3 linked regions of the Homo sapiens genome follow. The protein of the gene in region 2 interacts with the protein of the main gene of each other region in a biochemical or structural test. Each region holds a gene or a part of one and is shown on either strand. Other genes may lie near its edges.

Region 1 (7,775 bases), on a different chromosome or scaffold from region 2:
GGCAAAACCTCGTCTCTACTAAAAATACAATAATTAGCCGGGGATGGTAGTGGGCCCCTGTAATCCCAGCTACTCGGGAGGCTGAGGCAGGAGAGTCGCTTGAACCCGGGAGGCGGAGGTTGCAGTGAGCTGAGATTGTACCACTGCACTCCAGCCTGGGTGACAGAGTGAGACTTCATGTCAAAAAAAAAAAAAAATTGAAAACAGCACGGGGTGGCAGGGGAGAAGAGGTGAAGGATGGCTGACAGCTAAGCTGGAGAGGGGCACCCAGGATGGGAGAAGGCAGAAGCTGCTGGGTGAATAAAACAGGCAGCCCCTCCCCAGCAACCCTAGCCTTGAACCCTGGGCGATGAGGTGGGGGTGGAGGGGCTGGGCCTCTTCCATGTCCTTTTGCAGGACTGCCTTCCCATAAGGAGAGGCTGGGCATCACAATCTGGCTGAGAATAAAATTAAGGAGTTTCGGGGAAATGCTGCTGTGAAGAAAGACTTGGGCTTGGAACTCCCACTCTGTCTTTTTGGGGGACAACTCCTCTTTGGCAGGGAGTAGGGCAGCTGCTTTTCTGGCTCCCAAAGCCCAAGGGTGAAGAAAAGTCTGCTGGGGAAGAAGAGAGTGGAGCTTCCTAAAAGAACTGAGACCTTTGCAAGAGTGATAGAGGATGCCCCTGGGGAGGGGGGAGGGGGAAATCAGCAGTTCATGGGGGAAGTTCAAACCCCAGAGCCTCCTTCCAAAGTCAGTCGGCTTCCTGGATTTGTTAAAATGGAATGGGGAGACACGGTAAGGTGGGAAGGGTGGGAGGGGTGGAAGTAGAGGAAGGAGGAAAGGGGACACTGGTGGAACTTAAATAAGATTTTAATTGTTTTTTGTTTTAATTTTTTATTCTAGCAAACAGCCCACTGAACATGGCACTAAACCTCTCTCCTTCCCAGGCAGGATTACGCCAAAGGGTAGGTGTGCTTTTCATTCATCCTCTCTTAGTAAGTGGTGCCTGTTCAGGGCTGGAGTTAAGTTTGAGCCCCTCTTTCCACACCGTGTCCCTTGATACAACAGCAAGACCTGGCCTGAATAGAGCTGAGAAACTCGTTTAAAACAGGCAGAAGGGGGCTGGGGCAAGGGGGACCCTGTGGGAGGAGAAAGAGAGAAGCACAGAGGGACCAGGAAGGCATGGGGGGGGGTGAGGGAGCAGCTGGTGTTTCTGTTCCTCCAAATATCTGGGCTTCCTGCTCCCCCAACCCTGGAGGGTGGGGTGAGGATGAAATTAGATACAAGGAACTCTGGGGCCCTCTGGCTGTTCAATCCAACCCTCCCATCCCCCAAACCACCAAAAACAAAAAGGAAAGAAAACCCACAGGGGCACAAGCACACCCCTAAAACTCAGAAAACTCCTTGGCACACTTCTCATTGATGGAGATCCGGAGCTCTTCCTCCTCGTAGTCGTCAAAGTTACTGGCATCCCCAGGGCCTGTGTACTTCGGGATGAAGGGAGCTTCCACCTTCTTCTCATAGATGGCGATCCAGCTGGTTGTGGCGAACCACTTGTGGTTCTTGATGTCGCCAACCCCGTTCCTGAGGTTTCCGAAGCGCTTGGTGAGGTCCACCTGCAGCAGGCTCCGCAGCAGATGCTTGAGGTCAGAGCTGAGTTTGGAGGGAAACCGCACCCTCCCAGAGACGATCTTCTCGTAGATCTGGATGGGCTGGTCGGCGTAGAAGGGTGGGAAGCCCACGGCCATCTCATAGATGAGCACCCCTAGGGCCCACCAGTCCACGGCCTTGTTGTAGCCTTTGCTCAGGATGATCTCGGGGGCCAGGTACTCTGGGGTCCCGCACAAGGTCCAAGTGCGGCCCTTCACGCGCTTGGCGAAACCGAAGTCCGTCACCTGCAGGTAGCCCTGCTGGTCGATGAGGAGATTCTCGGGCTTCAGGTCGCGGTGGATGAGGTCGAGCGAGTGTAGGTACTGGACGGCCAGGACGACCTGGGCGGCATAGAAACAGGCATGGGGCTCGCTAAACCTTCCGACGCGCTGTAGGCGGGAGAACATCTCCCCACCCGGCACGTACTCCATCACCAGGTACAGGTAGGAGTTGTCCTTAAAGGAGAACTGGAGCTTGACGAGGAACGGAAAGTCGATCGCCTGCAGGATGCGCTTCTCGTTCAGTATGTGCTCGACCTGCTTCATCTTCACCACCTTCTGCTTGTTGAGGATCTTCATGGCGTAGTGGCCGCCGGTCTCCTGGTGCCTCACCAGCATCACCCGCCCGAAGGAGCCCATGCCCAGCGTCCTGAGCCGTTCGAACTGATCCGAGCTGGCGGTGTTTTGAGCGGGGTTTCCCCATCTGTAGAGGAAATCTCCTCTGGCTTTGGCTAGGAACTCGTTCACGCTCTCCTCCTGCTCGGTGTCCTTCTTGGCGGGGGCGTTGCCCATGGCGGTGGCGGCGGCAGGGGCGGGGGTCTCGCGGCGGCGGCGGCGGCGGCGGCAGCGGCGGAGATGGCGCCCCCTGGGGCTGGCTGCGCTGGCTGCGGCGCTGCGACCCCCGCCCGGCCTCCGCTTATATTCCCAGCTACATGGGAGGCTGAGATGGGAGGATTTCTTGAGCCTGGGAGGTCAAGGCTTCAGTGAGCCAAGATCACGCCGCTGCACTCAACAATATGGATAAATCCAAAAGGCATTATGCAAGTGAGAGAAGCCAACTCTAAAGGAGACTTACTGTATGAATCCATTTCTATGACATTCCAGAAAAGGCAAAACTATAGTGTGAGAGAACAGATCAGTGATTGCCAGGGCTTGGGGTTAGGGGACGGTTGGACTATGAAGGGACAGCCTGAGGGAATGTGGGAAGTGGTGGGACATGTTTGTATCCTGATTGTGCTGGTGGTTACAATGTATTGGGTGGTGGTCTACATTTGTTTTAAAACTCATAGAACTGGCCGGGCGCAGTGGCTAAAGCCTGTAATCCCAACACTTTGGGAGGCCGAGGCGGGCGGATCACAAGGTCAGGAGTTCGAAACCAGCCTGACCACCATAGTGAAACCCCGTCTCTACTAAAAATACAAAAAAATTAGCCAGGCGTGGTGGCGCATGCCTGTAATCCCAGCTACTCGGGAGGCTGAGGCAGGAGAATTGCTTGAACCTGGGAGGCAGAGGTTGCAGTGAGCAGAGATCGTGCCACTGCACACCAGCCTGGGCAATAAGAGTGAAACTCCATCTCAAAAACAAACAAACAAACAAACAAACACCTCAAAGAACTGTATACTTCCCCCCAAAATTCAGTTTTACTGCATGTAATGTTTTATTTTAACACATACATATGATTTCCTTTCTTCTGTTTGCTTTGGGTTTAATTGCTCTTATTTCCTAAGGTGGGAACTAAGGTCACTGATTTGAAATCTTTCTTCTATTACAATCACTTAGTGCTATAAATTTCCTCCTAAGTATTATTTTTTGCAGCATCCCACAAATTTTGGTATGTTGTATTTTCCTTTTCATCCAGCTCAAAATATTTTCTAAGCTCCCTTTTCATCTTCTTTGACAGATAAGCTATTTAAAAGTATATTATTTCGTTTCCAAATACTTGGGGATTTTTCAAGAATTTTCCTATTGATTTCTGATTTAATTCCATTGTTAGAAAACATACTCTGTGTGACCTAAAATGTTTTACACTTCTTGGGGCTCATTTTATGGCCCAGAATATGATCTATCTTGGTAGATGGCCCATATGCACTTGAGAAGAATGTATATTCTGGTGTATTCTGCTGTTTGAGGATACAGTGTTCTACAAATGTCACTTAGGTCAAGTTGGCTAGTAGTAGTGTTCAGGTCTTCTATATTCTTATTGACTTTCTGTTTACTTATTCTATCAATTATTAAAAACATGCCACAGGAGTTTATGAGAAGTCAAAGTACATAGATGATGGGCCTTCCATCACTCCCCCAGGCCACCATGTCAGCCGCCCCACACACCCTCCAGAAGACTGCCAGCACTCAGCCATCACAGGGTGGGTTCTGAGCTGCTCTCCCCAGTCAATTCTGTACAAAGATTCTGTCCTACATCATAAACACTGAGCTACAGGAATACCCATTTATCCTCCTATTTTCTCTCCATCTTGCCCTTTAAGTTTGACAGCTAATTCTGCCTACCCACCCTGGCTACACCGCCTGTAGCTAGTGCAAGTAAACAACACACTTTCACCTAGCCCTGCAGGCTGAAACCAAGCAAATTGGAGAGGAATCCCTGATTACTTGACTCCAAGTAGAAGGTTTCTATTGTGACTGTGAATTCTTGCCGCTCAGTTCAGCAGATGTTGGTCAAGCAGGTGTCTATTGTGTGCAAGGCCTGGTTCCGAGTTTACGGTTTAATCTGGGGCCAGTACTTGGGTACTGACTGTATATTCAGAGACGGTCAGGTTAGAGAGGAAGAAGAGGAAAGGAGAAAAATCTACTGTTGATCATCTGAACTTCCACAAAAGGGAAACCCACATTCCCTCAAGAACATAGCAGGGGGGTCAATTGCCCCTTGTGCTTTGGGTCAAGGCAAATCCCTGGCAGATGGAAATTCCACGTCTCCCCCATAATCTCAGTGATTTCCTCTTCATTTTCATCACAGTAGATCTGCTAAAATTCTGCCCATTTCTGACTTACCTCCAGATTATTCAGTAGAAATTTATACACAAAGAGCAATTAGTGGGAAGCCATTCTCTTGGACCGACGCCTTGGAAGTGGGACAGTTTGTTTAGAAGCAGGCTGTGCCATTCCATGACAAATTCTTGTGGCATTAATCTCTGAAGTTCAATTAGGAAGACACAGGGGTCTAGAGGGAACATATGCTGCACACTAGAAATGTCCCCATGCTTCGTTTACAGGTCAGAACATCAAGTATTTATCCCAGAACAAGCTGCAGAATAATTACATTTGTTATTTCTCTCCACTTTCCGTTCTGCTTTTCTCCATGGCCTTGGGGAGCAAGGGAGTCCTTAGCATGCCAAGGAAACAGGAATCCTTTTGCATTCAGATAAACCCTTTCAGAAGGAAAAGATTTGTGTAGCAAGATACAATACCTCTGCATGATCTGCTTGGAGCTTGCCTAGGGGGCCAAATGAAGAGGTGAAAGCCAACTCTGCTTTCCTGTATGCCCAATGAAAGGCAATCAAGACCATTCTTCTCCCAAAAAACTGCTCACTGGCAGTCATGCCAGCTGATTCTCCTCTTTACTGTTTATATAGCAGTTTCCAAATGGCTAATTGCATAAGGCTTGGATCATTCAATTCTAACTTCCTCTCTATCTCCAAAATATTGATGGGAGCAAAGAAAAGAACAAACTCCACCAGGATTCAAATAAGAAATAAACTACAAATCTCTATCACTCAGGGAATTATTTACATAACACTGCATGTTCTGGTCCAGAAATACTTATCATACCTGGATTTTGACAAGCCAGCTTCTATTAATAGTTTGTTTTCTCCTTATTAGCAGAATATTGTAAAAGAACATTTTTGAACACAAAGTTTCTATGTCAGATTTATGATCTATAAAATGCTGATTTAAAAATTGGCGTGGCCTTTGTTATATGAAAGATGAAAAATTATGGGAGTCAGGAAGTTCAGAAATAACTTAATGACAATAATTTATAAAGTACTACATTTATTTAAAGTTTGGGCAATCATTCATCCCTTGGTACCACTAATTTTGCCACAATTTTTTTTTTCTTTTTTTTTGAGACCGAGTTTTGCTCTTGTTGCCCGGGCTAGAATGCAATGGCACGATCTCGGCTCACCGCAACCTCCACCTCCCGGGTTCAAGCAATTCTCCTGCCTCAGCCTCCCGAGTAGCTGGGATTACAGGCATGTGCCACCATGCCCAGCTAATTTTGTATTTTTAGTAGAGACGGGGTTTCTCCATGTTGGCCAGGCTGGTCTCGAACTCGCGGCCTCAGGTGATCTGCCTGCCTCGGCCTCCCAAAGTGCTAGGATTACAGGCGTGAGCCACCGTGCCCGGCCACCATAATATTTATAGAAGTGGCTTGACACACATGATAATGAGCATTGTAATGTTTTTGGGACCTGAAAAGAAAGTAGTCCTAGAAATAGGCCCAACTTGCTTACCTAAAAATATATCTTCTGACATATAAGAACTGCCAAAAGTGATTACCCCTAGGGAATAGCACTAGGAACTTAGAGAAGCATAAATTAAAGGAAGGAAAATTTTTACTTCTCACTTTATAAGCTTCTGAATTGCTAAAATTAATTTTGAGCATGAATTACTTTACTTATTAAAATAAAAATGAGGTAAAACATTGGTTTCTCACAAATGCATTTACTTATATTTTATATGTCACTTTTATATACTGTTTAAATCCACAAAAGGGAGACAATTTTTATAAAATTATTTTCCCCATATTTTGTAGTTCTCCTTCGTTTCCTGGCAATAGCACTCTGTTTTATCTTTGAGGGATTACTTCTACCTCATTTCATCTGATTCTGTTGGGTTCCCAATCTAACCCACTCACCTGAGTCAAAGTCAGGGATGGCCACAGGACCCAAGATAGATCGATCAGTTTATGTCTCTCAGGAATTGAATCTTGAGCAGAGACACAGGGGGATTTGAGGCATTTGTAAAGGAGCCATCCAAATACAGCATCTTAGAAGGCTGTCCATGTTTCTACAGCTGTTGGCCAATAAGTTCCTTGCCTTCTGTCCTGAGCCCTGGTTTTTCAGTTCTTCCTTTATGTGTCTTTCCACATAAAGGAAGCAAAGCTTTTTTTTTAAGCAAAGCAAATGGGACAAGGCGGGGGTGGGGAAGAGAAAGAAAGAAACAAATTTATTGAAGACAATAATGAATTCAGGATTGAACACATTGAGTTCATAGGTCCTTAAGACATTCAGGTAGAGATGTCTAATTAGCCAATGGAAATCTGGGATTGAACTTAGTAGACAGATAAGCACTGGCAGCACAGATTTAAGTGGTATGAGAGTGTTAGCCAAGGAACGTGAGCCGAGAGAGAACAGAGTCAAGGAGGGGGATTGTGGGAAACTCCACTATCTGAGGATGGGGGTAGGAATGTCAGGCACTGCTATTTGCCCACCATGGCTGTGTCTTGTGAGGCCTGCCGTACTCAGTCCTTCTGAGACCTTGAAGAGAATTTCTTGTGCACACCTACACAAGAAGTGGGCATTGTCACATGGTTGCAATGTGACTGCACATGTATAATGCCTAGTAATTATCATGCAACATACAGACAGTACAGCCGAGTGGCTGAATGGGAAACTGTACCCAGGACAAGATGTTAGATACAGATAATATGGACTGCGACAGGAGCTTCGGCACTCATGTAAAGTATAATGGCATATGAGTTTCTTGGTGACCTCTTCTGCTATCACTGTAACAGCCTACATTTCATGATGAAGAGTTGAGGCCCTCAAGAGAAACAGAACAGGAGAGCGCTTGATGATTTCCTCTGAAATCTCATCTGCAGCACTTAACATGTGTGATACAGCACACCTGCCAATTAACAGAAGGCCCTAGGTGGAGCAGAACATTCACAACATCCTTCTGCCAAAATATGCCCTATAATCAGAGCTCACAAACCGATGCACATCAAAAGCAGTGGTTCTTAATTTTAACTGCACATTGAAATCACCTGAGACATTAAAAAAAAAAGAATACTGGGTTGGGCATGGTGGCTCACGCCTGTATTCCCAACACTTTGGGAGGCCGAGGCAGGGAGCTCACTTGAGGTCAGGAGTTCGAGACCAGCCTGGCCAAAATGGTGAAACCCCGTCTCT
Region 2 (7,765 bases):
CAGGATATATTGTCAAAGATCAGCAGGGCTGGATGCTAGTAAAAGTGGTAAGGATACATCTTAATGTCAAAGATAAACAAAGCTGGATACTAGTTAAGCGAATAAGGACAGATTTTAATCAGTAGTGCTATTGCAACAAGGAAAAAGAGTTCAGCATGAACTGAACCTGATTTGATTTGTACAGAGGTGACTGGGAATATTAATGGGAGAATGAAGATTAGAGAAGGGGCGAGCAGGAGCTCAGTAGAGTCAGAGGAGTGAAAAGTTACAAAAGGTTCATTGGTGTAAATGTGATTAGACCAGCTATGTCTGCTAACTGGCAATTGTCAAAGTTAGTTAGTTAGGATTCTGTCCTCCAGAGTCCTTATCCTTAGATGTTGTCTGGAACTGTTGATTTTTTTATCAGCCTGGAGTTTTCCCAGGCAGGTACTTTAGTGGAGGGCTGGGATCATCCTTGACATGCAGTCTTGAACAGTTAGAAACTATATTTATTAGTGTTTGTTCAAGTCTTTATAGACCAAAGTTGAGGCCAAGTTGAGAAGAGGGCTCAGAGGTACCTGACTAGAGTTTGGTCAAGGAGAGAATGTCAGTATGGAGTTATTGGTGACTTCAGCCCAATAGGGAAATTCCAGTCTTTCATTTAATCACTAGGGATATTTTGGTAAGTAAAGGAAACCAACATATGAACCAAATGTAGACCCTCACAAGAGAGTTCTCATCCTGATGTTTTTCCATCAGGGTATTAACATCTGGTGCTACCTAGCACTTGTTCATGGTTTATAAAGTTTCCATAACAGCTATTTAGAAAGAAAACGTCTCATCTTCCCAACACTGTATAGCTTCATATGTACCAAAAATGCCTTGTACAAATTTTTTAAAGAATAGTTTAAAAAATGGATGAGATGTAAAGTTGTGCAGATGTAAGTATGATCCGTATTTCCAGGGACTATAGCTAAGCGTAGTGATGTTTAGACACAATATGTCTTTGAAAAAGAATGTTTCTTTATGGTAAAAAATCAAAAGCAAAAACAAAATTTTAACCAGAGTAATACTGGAAAGCTTAATCAAATTGGTAAATAAGATACATTGTGTAATATTTATTAGTACAATGTTGTACTAATAGGTAATACCTGTGTAGGTTTTTGGTTAATTTATCTAACAAATACATTTATAAGTTTATCTTCTATGGTGCTTATATGCCTATATTTCTTCTATATGAAGTTGATTTTTACATAATAGCACCTAGAAGAAGTTAGAAAGTTAGAAGAAAAAAATGCAGGCTTTTCAAATAAAAGATAAGATAGATGTCAAATGTGCAGAAGGTCTTGAGTCTTGCTTGGCATTGGAGAATATTCCACTGTTGTGGTTCTTTCATATTATTGCTATATATGTTCATTGTCGGTACAAATACTTTTTTTTTTTCTGAGACCCAGTCTTGCTCTGTCACCCGGGCTGGAGTGCAGTGGCGTGATCTCTGCTCACTGCAACCTCCGCCTCCCAGGCTCAAGCAATTCTTGTGCCTCAGCCTCCTGAGTAGCTGAGACTACAGGTGTGTACTACCCTGCCCAGATAAATTTTTGTATTTTTAGTAGAGACGGGTTTTTGCCATGTTGCCCAGCCTGGTCTCAAACTCCTGAGCTCAGGTGATCTGTGCGCCTCGGCCTCCCAAAGAAGTGCTAGGATTACAGGCATGAGCCACTGCGCCCGGCCTACAAATACTTTAAAGAACATGAGTTGAAATCAGTAATACTTTTTAATTGTAAAGTATAACTATTTTTAATATTTGGCCCTCCTTTAGTTCCATAATGCTTCAAGTGGTTACTATTTATTGCCAGAGCAGCATCCTTTTTGTGAGAATAAGTATGATGTTCCTGCTGCATAGTTTTCTTGTATTATCTCAAATGCAATGTTCATATTTTCAGGATTCCAGTCAAATTGAGCTATTAAAAGAATTAATGGATCTGCAGAAGGATATGGTGGTCATGTTGCTGTCCATGTTAGAAGGTAGTTTTGATTTATACTTTTAAATTCTCTTTATTATCTTATTTAAAGGATCAGCATGGGCTTATGGAATCAGAGTGTAGCATAGAATAAAATAGCACTCAGATATGATAGATGCCTTGGATTTCTTGCTGGCTTATTATTCTTTTTCTCACATTAGTTTTTTTTTAAAGGGAGATCCTGCATATCTCAGTTTACATATCTACAAAATGAAAATAGTAGTACTTTATAACAGTACTTTTCATTTCATAGTGATATCGTAAAAAGTAAGCTCTCCAGTCTATAAAGAATATTTTATTTGTTAGTGTGTTTGTCCATAATCAGTGGGGGTTTCGGACATTTGGGTAACAGTCAGCTGTGTAAGCTGCTGCTTTGAAAAGACCACAGAGTCACTCCTTTGGGTTCTTAAAGCCGTGGCACTGCTGGGAAAGCCTCTGTCCCCCAGGGCAGCTGGCAGTGGTAGTCTTGTTCTCCCCACCACAGCCTCAGTTTTAATTTTCTCTTTTTTTTTCTTCCCAGCTTATTTTGTTATTGCTTTTTTTTTTTTTTTTTTTCCTGTAGCAGGCAGGAAATGTAGCAGTTAAGAGCTTGGGCTCCAAATCCACCGCCAGAGTTTAAATCCTGGCTTCCTTACCTCTGGGAGGTATGACCCTTGGACAAGCTACATCTCCATTTTTTCAGTTTCCTCCTCTGCAAAATAGAAATGATAGATATTGATATGAGAATTCAGTGGAATCCTATAAATACAACCAAAACAACTAAGAAATGTTTGGTATTACGGTGCCTATCACTTTTTCTTAACTTCTTCCTATTTTCTCTCCGTGTCTGCCATACATGGCGTAACTCCACTTCAGTTAACTGAGGCAGCTGTCACGCCTCGTGCTAGGACTTTGAAGTGGCAGCATCTGCTTAAAGCCCTTAGTCGGTGGCAACAGTAGCCACTTTATACCCTTTAAACACAGGATCCATTTTTCCATGCATGGCCCCGATTCGAATTTTGGGTTAAATACTAACAAACAGCAACAATAATAACTGCAGTAGCAGCAACCACAGCAGTGACTTAAAACCAGCCTCATAACGTGCCAGATACTGAATTAAGTACTTATTTAATCCTAGTAACAAGTTTATCAGTTCAATGGTAATATTATCTCAAGTTTGCAAATGAGGAAACTGAGGTACAGAGAGGCTAAGAAATCTGCCCAGGTTGCTGAGCACATTAAGCCTGGATTCAAACCCAACAATGTGGCTCCAGATCCCACACTCTTAACACCACGGTGCTTACTGCTTCTCCGATTGACTCTGTGGACCTCTGACCAGCGACCTTTCTTCTCCTGCCTGTCTTTATGATATATAGCACGTTCTGTTCAATGAATAAAAGCATTCTGTGATCCTGTAGTTCAGGAATCTGCCATTTTCTAACAACTATACACACTGACTCATGAAGAAATGTAGAAAGGTGCTTTTCATTATGAATCAGAAAAAGCGTACAGTTTGCTCTCAGGATCTGGTCTGAAGACCTGGCACTAACCTTTAATAATTAAGTCACAATGGGCCCATTAATTTAGTCTTGTTGAACTTCAATTTCCTCATCGGTAAAATTAGGGTTAACAAAAAGTACCTGCCTTACATATGAACATTAAATCAGATATTGTCTATGATAGTGATTTTTCAACTCTAAAGGGCTGAGCAAATGTTTATTTTTATTATTAATATGAAACGATTTTAGTTTCTGGCTCTTTGGCTCATTTTCTTTATCTAAAACATGTTGCTTCTTTGATTGAGGGGAAAAATGTCAACTTTTGTTGAAATATTTTATGTGTGTCAGTCTAATTGCTCTGTAAATAGGGTTATGCATGTTTGTGTAATCATTTTTTAAACTATAGTTTATAAATAATTATCTTTTTATAGAGTGAGAGATAAACAGGGACATATCCTTGATTCAGATGTTATTAAAGATCTACATTGTTATCTTCTGTATGATCACTGATTTTGTTAGTTTATTTTAAACAAATGCAACTGCTTTACCACCAGGTAATGTTGTTAATGGAACGATTGGCAAACAGATGGTGGATATGCTTGTGGAATCTTCCAACAACGTGGAGATGATTCTCAAATTTTTTGACATGTTCTTAAAACTAAAGGATTTGACGTCGTCTGATACTTTTAAAGAATATGACCCCGATGGCAAGGGAGTCATTTCCAAGAGGGACTTCCACAAAGCGATGGAGAGCCATAAGCACTACACGCAGTCAGAAACGGAATTTCTTTTGTCTTGTGCGGAGACGGATGAGAATGAAACCCTCGACTACGAAGAGTTCGTCAAACGCTTCCACGAACCTGCGAAGGACATCGGCTTCAACGTCGCCGTCCTTCTGACAAACCTCTCTGAGCACATGCCCAACGATACCCGACTTCAGACTTTTCTGGAATTAGCAGAGAGCGTCCTGAATTATTTCCAGCCCTTTCTGGGCCGCATCGAAATCATGGGAAGCGCCAAACGCATCGAGAGGGTCTATTTTGAAATCAGTGAGTCCAGCCGAACCCAGTGGGAGAAGCCCCAGGTCAAGGAGTCCAAAAGACAGTTCATATTTGACGTGGTCAACGAAGGCGGAGAGAAAGAGAAGATGGAACTCTTTGTGAACTTCTGCGAGGACACCATCTTTGAAATGCAGCTGGCGGCTCAGATCTCGGAGTCGGACTTGAACGAGAGGTCAGCGAATAAGGAAGAAAGCGAGAAGGAGAGGCCGGAAGAGCAGGGGCCGAGGATGGCTTTCTTCTCCATTCTGACGGTCAGGTCGGCCCTGTTTGCGCTCAGGTACAATATCTTGACCCTTATGCGAATGCTCAGTCTGAAGAGCCTGAAGAAGCAGATGAAAAAAGTAAAAAAGATGACCGTGAAGGACATGGTCACGGCCTTCTTTTCATCCTACTGGAGTATTTTCATGACCCTCTTGCACTTCGTGGCCAGCGTTTTCAGAGGCTTTTTCCGCATCATTTGCAGCCTGCTGCTTGGGGGAAGCCTCGTCGAAGGTGCTAAAAAGATCAAAGTTGCAGAACTGTTAGCCAACATGCCAGACCCCACTCAGGATGAGGTTAGAGGAGATGGGGAGGAGGGAGAGAGGAAACCCCTGGAAGCCGCCCTGCCCTCCGAGGATCTGACCGACTTAAAGGAGCTGACAGAGGAAAGTGACCTTCTTTCGGACATCTTTGGCCTGGATCTGAAGAGAGAAGGAGGACAGTACAAACTGATTCCTCATAATCCAAATGCTGGGCTCAGTGACCTCATGAGCAACCCAGTCCCCATGCCTGAGGTGCAGGAAAAATTTCAGGTAATTTATCTCTAAGTCACAGCAGCATTCTCTCTGGACTTCAGGTGGGTATAATAAATGATCATTAGACCAGGTTTCATGCTAGTGCCAGAACGGTGTTACCTATGTGACTTGAATTTCCAAAGAGAAATGCTTTTTGGTAGACAAAGTTAGTGTTTTTAAGAGTCCTTATGAATTATTAAATTATCTTAAACTATTATGGTGTAAGCTTCAGTACCCACCCTAACTGTAGCCTACATCTTTCTCCACGTTTATATAATTTTATATGCACATTTGAAAAGTTGGGAAAAGAAAGAAAACTTTTAGATACCTGTAAGTGGCATTATTCTCACAGAGCATTGAAATTTTCTCCTCTGTTCTGTGATTTTCTTTGGCATGTTTTCATTGTATGTTCTTTGTAGTCATTAGTCCATAGAGCCATCATTCCATCCATGAATATGGCATATTTTCCAAGTGTCTGACAGACACCACTGGGTATCATAGGGAATTCAAAGGTAAGATGGGGTCACTGCCTTCAAATTACCTTAAAAAGTTTATTCCAGAGATAAAACTAACACACATGAAGAAACTAGAAAAGGGTTAACTGTGAAATAGTATAGGCAGGGCAGTAGGGGTTGCTTATGTTGAGAAAATGGCAATGCCGCTATGGTTTAAAGTAGTTAGATAAGAATGAAGAGGTAGGACTTAAACTGGCATTGAAGGATGAGTAAGATTTTAGTAGGTGCTTAAGATAAAGAAGGATATTTCTAAATGAGAAAAGAGAGTGAAAAGGAGTCCAGAAAGTTTGTCCCTGCTGCTGGTGCAGTAGGTCAGTGTGCAGAAGAAGCGGGAGATGTTTGGCCCTATAAAATGAAAAACACGTGGCGCTTTTATCGTGGTATAAGCAAGAGGGTATCTTATATAGGTTATGGTTTGACACATGGTCACATGGCTCCCTCAATTCATTCAAAGGTGATGGGTAATCCTGGTTTTCTTTTCCCCATTGACTCATTCAAGGAACAGAAGGCAAAAGAAGAAGAAAAGGAAGAAAAAGAAGAAACCAAATCTGAACCTGAAAAAGCCGAGTATGTATAGTTTGCATATACTTTTCCTTCGTTTCAGTTTGTCATTACATCTCTTTTTCTTGTACTCTGTCTTTGGGAGCTGCAAGGGAGAATCTCATATTGTCAAGGAGCCACAGAACTAATTGTGCCATCTCCGTGGAGAGGCTCTGACAGCGAGGACCTCAGGCCATGGGCAGGGATCACTGTAGACGCCCCCGGGGCTGCCAGTCTAGTCTTTTCCTCTCATTCCATGGGGACCTCCATTTGTGTGATTCCCTCTCAGCAGGAAAGACTCCAGTGATTGCATGGAATGCTGTTTGTAAGAGGACTCAGGGCCACAATTCTGTCTTTAAAAATCACTCATGTCTTTCTGTCCTTTCCAAGAAGGGAGGAAACAAACATTCCAAATGCGCTTTCATAGAATCCTGTGGAGTGGTGCTCCTTAAACCATAGACCCAGGACCACATGCATAAAAGTCCCCGGGAGAGTTGGTTAAAACAAACATTCCTGGGCCCCAAGCCATAGATCCTGCCTCAGCAGGTCTGGTGTGGGGCCTGGGAGCCTTCATTTTCACCAACACTCCTGGGATCAACGCAGCAATAAAAAAGAGCTGGATGTGAGGCGATGAAAATGCATAACTCCCTCATAACACCAGGTTTCTCTGAATAATCGAAGCCTACATCTTTCTCCACGTTTATAGAATTTTATACGCACATTTGAAAAGTTGGGGGAAGAAAGAAAGGAAGCTTTTAGGTGCCTGTAGTGCCACTATTCTCCCATAGCATTGAAATTTTCTCCTCTATTCTGTTATTTTCTTTGGTCTGTTTTCATCGTTATGTTTTTGTAGTCAGCACTATTCATTGTCATAGATCTCACACTATTGGGTCAGTTGTAAAAATGGCCCCATAAAAAGTAGACACAAATAACAGCAAGACAGGCATTTCAATGGCAATTCTTTAACTAATATATACCTCATATGAGTTAAGATTAAGTATAGCTTATATATATTAATATTTCTGGTTTATGTATTAATACATATGACTTCACTTTAATTTAATGAAGGACTGATATTTTGCACCTAAAGGATATCAAATGTCAATTCTTCTAATTCCATTATTGTTGGAATTAATATATCATTACTATAATTCACTTTATTTTATTTAATAAAATTAATTACAATTAATATATGTCAGAGTATAATGATACACTTTATACATGTGAACAATTAAGTGTGTAGGCCTCTGATTTTAAATCTTAATGGAAAATGTTAAAAATTGTGCATTAAAATTATAGGCTGGGCGTGGTGGCTCACACCTGTAATCCCAGCACTTTGGGAGGCCGAGGCGGGCGGATCATAAGGTCAGGAGTTCAAGACCAGCCTGGCCAACATGG
Region 3 (7,765 bases), on a different chromosome or scaffold from region 2:
GGAAGACGTCAGGGGCAGGCCAGAACTTCTTGGGGTGGCAATTCCCCAAACCTGCATGTAAGCACAAAGTGTGCGTCCCTTCACTAAGGATCAGAGCAAAGTGCTTTCCGGGGGTGCAGCTGTCCCTGTGGGTGGCCACTTCTCAGCCTCCAGGAACAAGCCCCATGAGCTCTCTGTTCCAGGCTCTCCTACCAGGATGACGAAAATCGGCAACTGACGCTCCCAGAGGAGGACAAGAGGGACATCCGGCAATCTCCGAAGAGGGGTTTCCTCCGCTCTGCCTCACTAGGTAAATGCACCGCTCGCTCTCTGGATGTGGTCGGCGGTTACTCCCTAGAGAACACTGGTCAGGGATGATTGGGAAATCGTTGTGGCCTGCCTCAAATCAGCCCCACACAGTGGGGCATTTCCAAAGCAAGGAGACAACATTCCAAAGGCAGGGTGTGCAGGGATGAGCCCTGGACACCAGAATACGTCTCAGACGAGGGGAGGGGAAAGGAGGAGCGTCTCGGGCCATAGTTACTGCTCCTGGCACCCCACCAGGGTGTAAACTGTCACAGGCCAGTGCCCTGTTTTCCTGCCCTGATGGTGGCTCTCTGGCTGGCTTTGCAGGTCGAAGGGCCTCCTTCCACCTGGAATGTCTGAAGCGACAGAAGGACCGAGGGGGAGACATCTCTCAGAAGACAGTCCTGCCCTTGCATCTGGTTCATCATCAGGTAGCTCACACTTTTGGACAGGCCACTGTCACCTGCCAGCAGGCCAGACAGTCCCCAGGGTGACGGACAAATCCTGAAGACTTCAGTGGGTCTTGCCTGTCTCAGATGGCTGGCACGTCCTGCCCCTGCCCTAAGAGCCATCCCTGTAGGGCTTCACACTCCTGTGCAGGTGAGGGCCACGGCAAGGTCTGCAGCATCGCAGGTGGGGGCCTAGGAAGTGCTGGTGCACAGGAGCTCTTTGTGTGATCCTGAGGACCCACAGCTGCAGGTTCCACCTGAGCTTTCTTCTTAGGCTGCCACAGATGCCACTGACGCCTCTGACACTGGCCTATGCCTCAGGGCACTCAGGAAGATGTACTTGTACCTAGAGTTTGAATATACCTGGAAATTTTGCCACACAAAAATCCATCCAGTGACATAAAGAAGTGATTAAAGAACCCACCAGCAACATGGTCAAGAGTAGGGAATGACATCCGTGGGAAGCAGGTCCAGGGAGATTCCATAAATGAAATGTCTCTTGGCATGGCTGACTCCAGCTGAGACAGTGAAATCCAAGATGCCAGGACCAAACATGCCTTAGTATCTTTGAACTTCAGTGTTATCTAAGGCCAGTCTATTAACCCCAGGCAAACTGAGGTCTAAACCTGGGTTTCCCAACATTCTGACCTTATTAAAGTTATACTCTTTTATAGCATGGACCTATGTTTTAAATAGACCTATGCTTTGTACCCAAAGGCATTCAACTGCCAATCAAAAGTCATAATCAGCATGAGATGGCCAGTGTGGCCTGGCTGAGTTGATAGTACTTCAGCTCCAAAAAATAAACAGGTTTTCTTAGCCTGTGTGGTGTTGTCTTCCACTGGGCTTTCTGAAATAATGAATATGGCCTTACACTTTTCTCAGATTCCCAGGGACCCAGGAGCCCCAGGCTGAGGACCACCATGGGCAGGGGCAGGAGGTGGAAGGATGTGGGGACACTGTGTGTGCTATCTTAAAAGATTTCTAGAAGTCGATTTCACCTATCTGTTCTTGTCGTACTGGTAGGCACGAAACTCTCCTCTTCATCTCTTTCTCCTCCTGTACTCTGTGACCCTAGAGGTGGTCTTTCCCCACCACAGTGTCGCTCTCTCCCGGGAGCACATCCCATCAGAGCAGCTCACCCTGCAGAGCCTCTGCCCTGGCAGGTTGTCATGGCAACAGCCAGACAGGCCTGGTCCCTACCCTCAGGATGCTCAAGAATATTCAGGGACAGAGGGCGTACCGTGTGACTTTTTTTTTTTTTTTTTTGAGACAGAGTTTTGCTCTTGTTGCCCAGGCTGGAGTGCAATGGCACGATCTCGGCTCACCACAACCTCCACCTCCCGGGTTCAAGTGATTCTCCTGCCTCAGCCTCCCAAGTAGCTGGGATTACAGGCATGCACCACCATGCCTGGCTAATTTTGCATTTGTAGTAGAGACTGGGTTACTCCGTGTTGGTCAGGCTGGTCTTGAACTCCCGACCTCAGGTGATCTGCCCGCCTTGGCCTCCCAAAGTCCTGGGATTACAGGCATGAGCCACTGCTCCCAGCCCTGAATCTTTTAATCACAATACAGCACCGGATTTAACAATGGCTCAAAGACAACCTGAGCTAGAGACTGGCAGGGCATTATGAATGGCCCCATTAACTGTGAGAACTAAAACCACAAATACTGGTTTTCCCAACTCTTTGTGAGGTGCACAGCGCTTCTTCACAGACCTCATTGCGCTTGAGCCTCACACCAGCCCCACAGGGCAGATGGATAGACAGCATTCGTTTTCTGGCTTTACAGACATGCAGGCCTCACCCTGCTCTCCATTCTATTGAGGACAAAACCAAGAGCGAGAGAATGCACAGCTGACAGGTGACCAGGCCAGGGCTAAAAGCAGGTTACCACGACTTCACCCAATCCCAGCTTTCAGAAGTTACAGGAGAAAGAGATCACTTCAGACCCAGATGATCCTAAGATGTATTTTGAGATAGTTGAAAGTCATGCCAGGTTGAGATAGGACCGACAGGGGAAAATAATGGCATGGGAATACCAGGCAGGTGGAGCTAGCTGGACACAGCAGCTGCAAAGCAGTGCTTGCTCAGAAGCAGGGGCCTGCCTTGTTTGGGGTCGGCCACTCCTATTAACTCACACTCCTTGTGTGTCCGCAGGCATTGGCAGTGGCAGGCCTGAGCCCCCTCCTCCAGAGAAGCCATTCCCCTGCCTCATTCCCTAGGCCTTTTGCCACCCCACCAGCCACACCTGGCAGCCGAGGCTGGCCCCCACAGCCCGTCCCCACCCTGCGGCTTGAGGGGGTCGAGTCCAGTGAGAAACTCAACAGCAGCTTCCCATCCATCCACTGCGGCTCCTGGGCTGAGACCACCCCCGGTGGCGGGGGCAGCAGCGCCGCCCGGAGAGTCCGGCCCGTCTCCCTCATGGTGCCCAGCCAGGCTGGGGCCCCAGGGAGGCAGTTCCACGGCAGTGCCAGCAGCCTGGTGGAAGCGGTAGGTGACTCGCAGATGGGCAGGGGGGAGAGGCCACGGGCAACAAGGGGACTTGGCATGCGGGGCTGAGAAGGGAGCACCTGGCTCTTGCCAAATTCATTGCAGTCAATATCTGAGCCCGAAAGACCCTCCCTCTCAGGGCTGCAGGAGGGCTCGTGTGCGGAAAGCCATGACTGCACAAGATGCTATGGGCTCTCTTGAGGCTGGGCCCACTGCAGAGGGCGGCAGAAACCACTGAGCAACTTATCCCTTATACTGCAGCTGCTCGACATGCAAATGTGAGCCTGGCTGCCTTTATACACAGACAGGCAAGATCCAAGGTGCTCAGGCCTGACTGCCCGTGAGCATCACCTGGGGAGCTTTGGAAACCCGGGACAGATTAACTGATGATTGTTAAAGCTCTTCGATGATTTTAACGTGTAGCAAGGTTGAGAGCCACTAGCCTAGAACAAGCGAGCTTTCAGTCCCACTGTGCTCTGCCTGGTCAGAGCATCTAGTGCAATCCCGGCACCACATTATTAGGGACCTTTGACACACTGGAACAAACCCAACAGAGGATGACCAGGATGGCAAGGTTCCTAGAAACCATTTCCTAGGAGAACCGTTTCAGGGAATTCGGGAAGAAAACCTGGAGAGGAGGTGACTTTGGAGGGTGCGATACACCTCTCACACCTGCAACGGGTGGGATGGGGAAAGGGTGGCAGGCTCAGCCCACCAGCGGACAGATTTCAGCTCACATGGGGAAGACCTTCCCAAATGAGCTCTTCCAAGATGAGAGGGGCTTGCCTGAAAGGTAGTGAGCCCCCCATCATCAGACATAGCCAAGCAGAGACTGTGCTCATCCGGGCGTCAGGCTGTGGTGCAGGAGGTGGGGCGTTAAACCAGGTGGCTTCCAAGGTTTACCTCTCAAAGTCTGGTATTCCTGTGGCCTCGATCATCCTGCATTCATTTCACAGACCTTCCCTGAGCGCCTACCATGTGCAGGCCCTGTTCTAGGTACAGGGACACAGCTGAGAAACAGAGCTTCTGCTCTCATGAGCTCACATCATGGTGAGGAGAGACAGATAATAAACACATACATATATAACACATCAGGAAGGTCAGGAGTGCCAAAGAAAAACTAAGCAGGGCAAGGAGAGAATGAGTGGCGTGGGCAAGGAGCAAGACAAACAGATGCCTGAAAGGAGCGAGTGCCAGGCTGCACTCAGCTTCCCCCGACCCGCTGGCTCAGGAGCCGATTTTCCCATAGCCAGGCACTAAGCAGCCGGTAGGGAGGACAGAGAAGCTTAAGGGTCACCTGCTGGCCCTTCCCAGCAGAAGCAAGGCAGGGGCATGCGCCGTGTTTGCACAGATACCTCACCCCTGGAAAGGCAGCAGCAGGCAATGGGCAGTGGGCCTGTCTCAGCAGTTTCACCAGGGAGAATGGTTTCTCTGAAAGAATAGTATAAAGGTTCAGTGGGTGTCAGAAAGGAGAGAGGCAGGCTGGGATCTGCTGATACAGCATCAGGGCAACCCCCCGGCCCCTCTGAGAGCCAAACCTTCTCTGGTTTTTGTTTTGGTTGTTTTTTGAGACAGGGTCTCGCTCTGTCACCCAGGCTGGAGTGTAGTGGTACAATCACAGCTCAGTGCAGCCTGGCGCTGCTGGGGTCAAATGATCCTCCCACCTCAGTCTCTGGCCTTGCTAAGATCACAGGTGTGCATCACCACACCCAGCTAATTATTCTTAAATTTTTTGTAGAGACGAAGTTTCCCTGTGTTGCCTGGGCCTGGTCTCGAACTCCTGGGCTCAAGCAGTCCTTCTGCCTGGGCTTCCCAAAGTGCTGGGTGACAGGTGTGAGCCACCGTGCTGGGCCATAAGCAAGTCTTCATATATTTGATGACAGTGTTTGACCACCCCAGCCAAAACTTCTCTGGCCTGCACATCCCTAATTCTGGCAGATGCTCCATCTCCACTTGTTCCCCATGGGTGCCCCTCCCAACACACACACGTACACGTGCACACACGCACACTTCCCCAAGTGACCTACCAGATACCCCCTCGCTCTAGCCCTCAAGGGAAGAGCTGGGCTCCAGGAGTAATGTTCCTTTGGTTCTTCATGGCTCCCACCCCGCTCCTTCAGGTCTTGATTTCAGAAGGACTGGGGCAGTTTGCTCAAGATCCCAAGTTCATCGAGGTCACCACCCAGGAGCTGGCCGACGCCTGCGACATGACCATAGAGGAGATGGAGAGCGCGGCCGACAACATCCTCAGCGGGGGCGCCCCACAGAGCCCCAATGGCGCCCTCTTACCCTTTGTGAACTGCAGGGACGCGGGGCAGGACCGAGCCGGGGGCGAAGAGGACGCGGGCTGTGTGCGCGCGCGGGGTCGACCGAGTGAGGAGGAGCTCCAGGACAGCAGGGTCTACGTCAGCAGCCTGTAGTGGGCGCTGCCAGATGCGGGCTTTTTTTTATTTGTTTCAATGTTCCTAATGGGTTCGTTTCAGAAGTGCCTCACTGTTCTCGTGACCTGGAGTTAACCGGAACAGCGTCTTCATTCATTTCTGTTGGGACCAGACGCGGAGCCTGGGTGCGCGAGCCGCCCTCCGGGAGGAAGGCGCCCGGCTGCGTCTGCAGAGGCGGGGAGAGGAGGCGGCGAGGGTCCCGGGGCGCGAGGAAGGCGCCTGCCCTCTCCCAGCTCGCAGGCCCCGGGCCCGGCCGCGCCTCCGCGGGGAGAGCACCCCGGCTTCCCGCGCGCCCTCACCAAAAGGACCCTACAGCAAACGGGTGTCTTTCGACTCTGCTTGTAGAAACCATTTGCACATATTCTGTACGAGCCTCGCTGTCTCCCTAGAGCCAGGGCCCTGCGGATTTGGAGAAGGGAGCGGGGCAGGACTTCCAGGAGGACCCCAACCCGGCCCGGAGAGGGAGGAGGAGGCCTCCAGGGGCGCGGAGCTCTGGGGATGGGCGTCGGGCCGGCAGTGGTGCGGCTCACTCCGTCCCTGCCCACCTGCGACGGGATCCCCCGACCGGCACGGGCCACGCCGAGCTCCCGGCCAGCCGCCGGCCCGCAGGCAGCGCGAGGGAGGAGCTGCGCCGCCGGCTCCGCCCAACCAGGTGGTGCTGAGCTTCCGCTGAGCGCTCTTTTGTTTTGTGGTTTGACACTTTTCTTGACAGCATGTTGCAGTTTCTTTTCGGTTTTGGTTTTTTTTAAATGTTTTATTTTGCTTTCCCAGCGGGAGGGGAGGAAGAAGAGTGTTTACAAAGTCCTGTAGCCCCCTCACCTTTCTGTTTTCACTTTTGCCAATGTACATCGGGTTTGGTTTTCTTGTATTATTTAAACGGTTGTGGTTTCCTTTTTCCACGGAGGTTCAATAGAAGCCGCTGCAGGAGAGTTTTACCAACCATTGTGTATGCCCAATAATTTGTTATCATTTCCTTAGGTAGTAACCTATTTTTGTTCTGGTTTGGTTCGGTTATCTAATGGAAAGGTAACTGGCAATGCACTTGATGTGGTCTTGCACATGTGGGTGATAGAGTTGGGTTCCTTTTTATGCTGGGTGTACAGGTGGGTTTGGGAGAGAGGAGCATGCGCGAGAGAGTCTCCGAGTGTGTGCGACGCGTGTGTGTGTGGTGGGTTGTCTGTGTGCATATGTCCTGCCCGTGTATATGCACCCACACCATGTGCCCGTGCACACCAGTGACTACGCAGTCCCCCCTTTCTGGTTTAGCTGTGGGAAGATCTGAATCTGGGGCCGTTTGAAAGCAAAAACAAACCACTGTCTCTGCTTCTGAAACGGGAATCAGTAACTCTTTGCATTTTCTGTCCCACAAGATATGCAAAAACAATGCAATAATATTCATTTAAAAATACAATTGTGAGTTGTGTTGGCATTAAAACTGTATTTTAAAAAAAGACAGAAATTTAAGGGAAAAACACAAGAAGGCATTTTGCTTCAATATATTCCGTGTAATGTTTTATTGCATTGATAATGTTTCTGTTGAAGAAACCGTTATACTTGAATTCAGGTCAGTTTCAGTATTTTTCAAATATTTTTTTAAAACTGAATTGCAATTGTGCCAAGCGAATATAATGAATTGAATTAAGTTGGTTTTCGGATTCACTTCTTGTATATTTTGCTGCATGTAAAGTAAATCATTTTGTATTTGGAGTGTGACAAGCTTTACCTTTGAACTCAAGTGCTTTTCTATATGTGGTTGGGGGAAAGGGAACAAGTTTTCTTTAGTTTGCACAATGAGCAAAGGTATCACCAGTGTAGTCATTATTCTGCTCTCCACAAACAGGTTTGGACATTACTGTTTTGCATATCTTGTGTTTGCTTACATTTCCCTCAATTTTTCCAAAATCGTTTGCTGGGTATGTTTGTACCGCCTCTTGCTGTGAGAGACCAGGACCTATTTTATTCCAGTCTTCACTCTGTCCACTCTGCTCTGGTCATCTGATTTGGTACTTCTCCAAGAACAGCCCTTCACTGTGAGGTGCAGGGAGGCGTTCTGATGAGCCCTCAGTCACTGGGCCGTCATCCGCATCCCCCATGGAAG

What was found. Proteins that work in one complex are often made in the same cells at the same time.
Region 1: of the proteins of RYR2 (region 2) and PRKACG, one has a biochemical effect on the other in vitro, tested with the Homo sapiens proteins (one study listed by BioGRID).
Region 3: the proteins of RYR2 (region 2) and CACNA1C form a complex in vitro, tested with the Homo sapiens proteins (one study listed by BioGRID).

Annotation. Positions count from the first base shown.
Region 1 is NC_000009.12:69,011,672-69,019,446, forward strand, and holds PRKACG (cAMP-dependent protein kinase catalytic subunit gamma), read right to left. Parts: upstream 2,443-7,775; 5' UTR 2,422-2,442; coding exon 1,366-2,421; 3' UTR 833-1,365; downstream 1-832. UniProt on the Homo sapiens protein: Phosphorylates a large number of substrates in the cytoplasm and the nucleus.
Region 2 is NC_000001.11:237,779,643-237,787,407, forward strand, and holds part of RYR2 (ryanodine receptor 2), read left to right. Parts: intron 1-1,922; coding exon 1,923-2,004; intron 2,005-4,032; coding exon 4,033-5,330; intron 5,331-6,326; coding exon 6,327-6,394; intron 6,395-7,765. UniProt on the Homo sapiens protein: Cytosolic calcium-activated calcium channel that mediates the release of Ca(2+) from the sarcoplasmic reticulum into the cytosol and thereby plays a key role in triggering cardiac muscle contraction. Aberrant channel activation can lead to cardiac arrhythmia.
Region 3 is NC_000012.12:2,685,554-2,693,318, forward strand, and holds part of CACNA1C (voltage-dependent L-type calcium channel subunit alpha-1C), read left to right. Parts: intron 1-182; coding exon 183-289; intron 290-612; coding exon 613-716; intron 717-2,893; coding exon 2,894-3,226; intron 3,227-4,586; exon of another isoform or gene 4,587-4,657; intron 4,658-5,253; exon of another isoform or gene 5,254-5,346; coding exon 5,347-5,646; 3' UTR 5,647-7,765. UniProt on the Homo sapiens protein: Pore-forming, alpha-1C subunit of the voltage-gated calcium channel that gives rise to L-type calcium currents. Mediates influx of calcium ions into the cytoplasm, and thereby triggers calcium release from the sarcoplasm.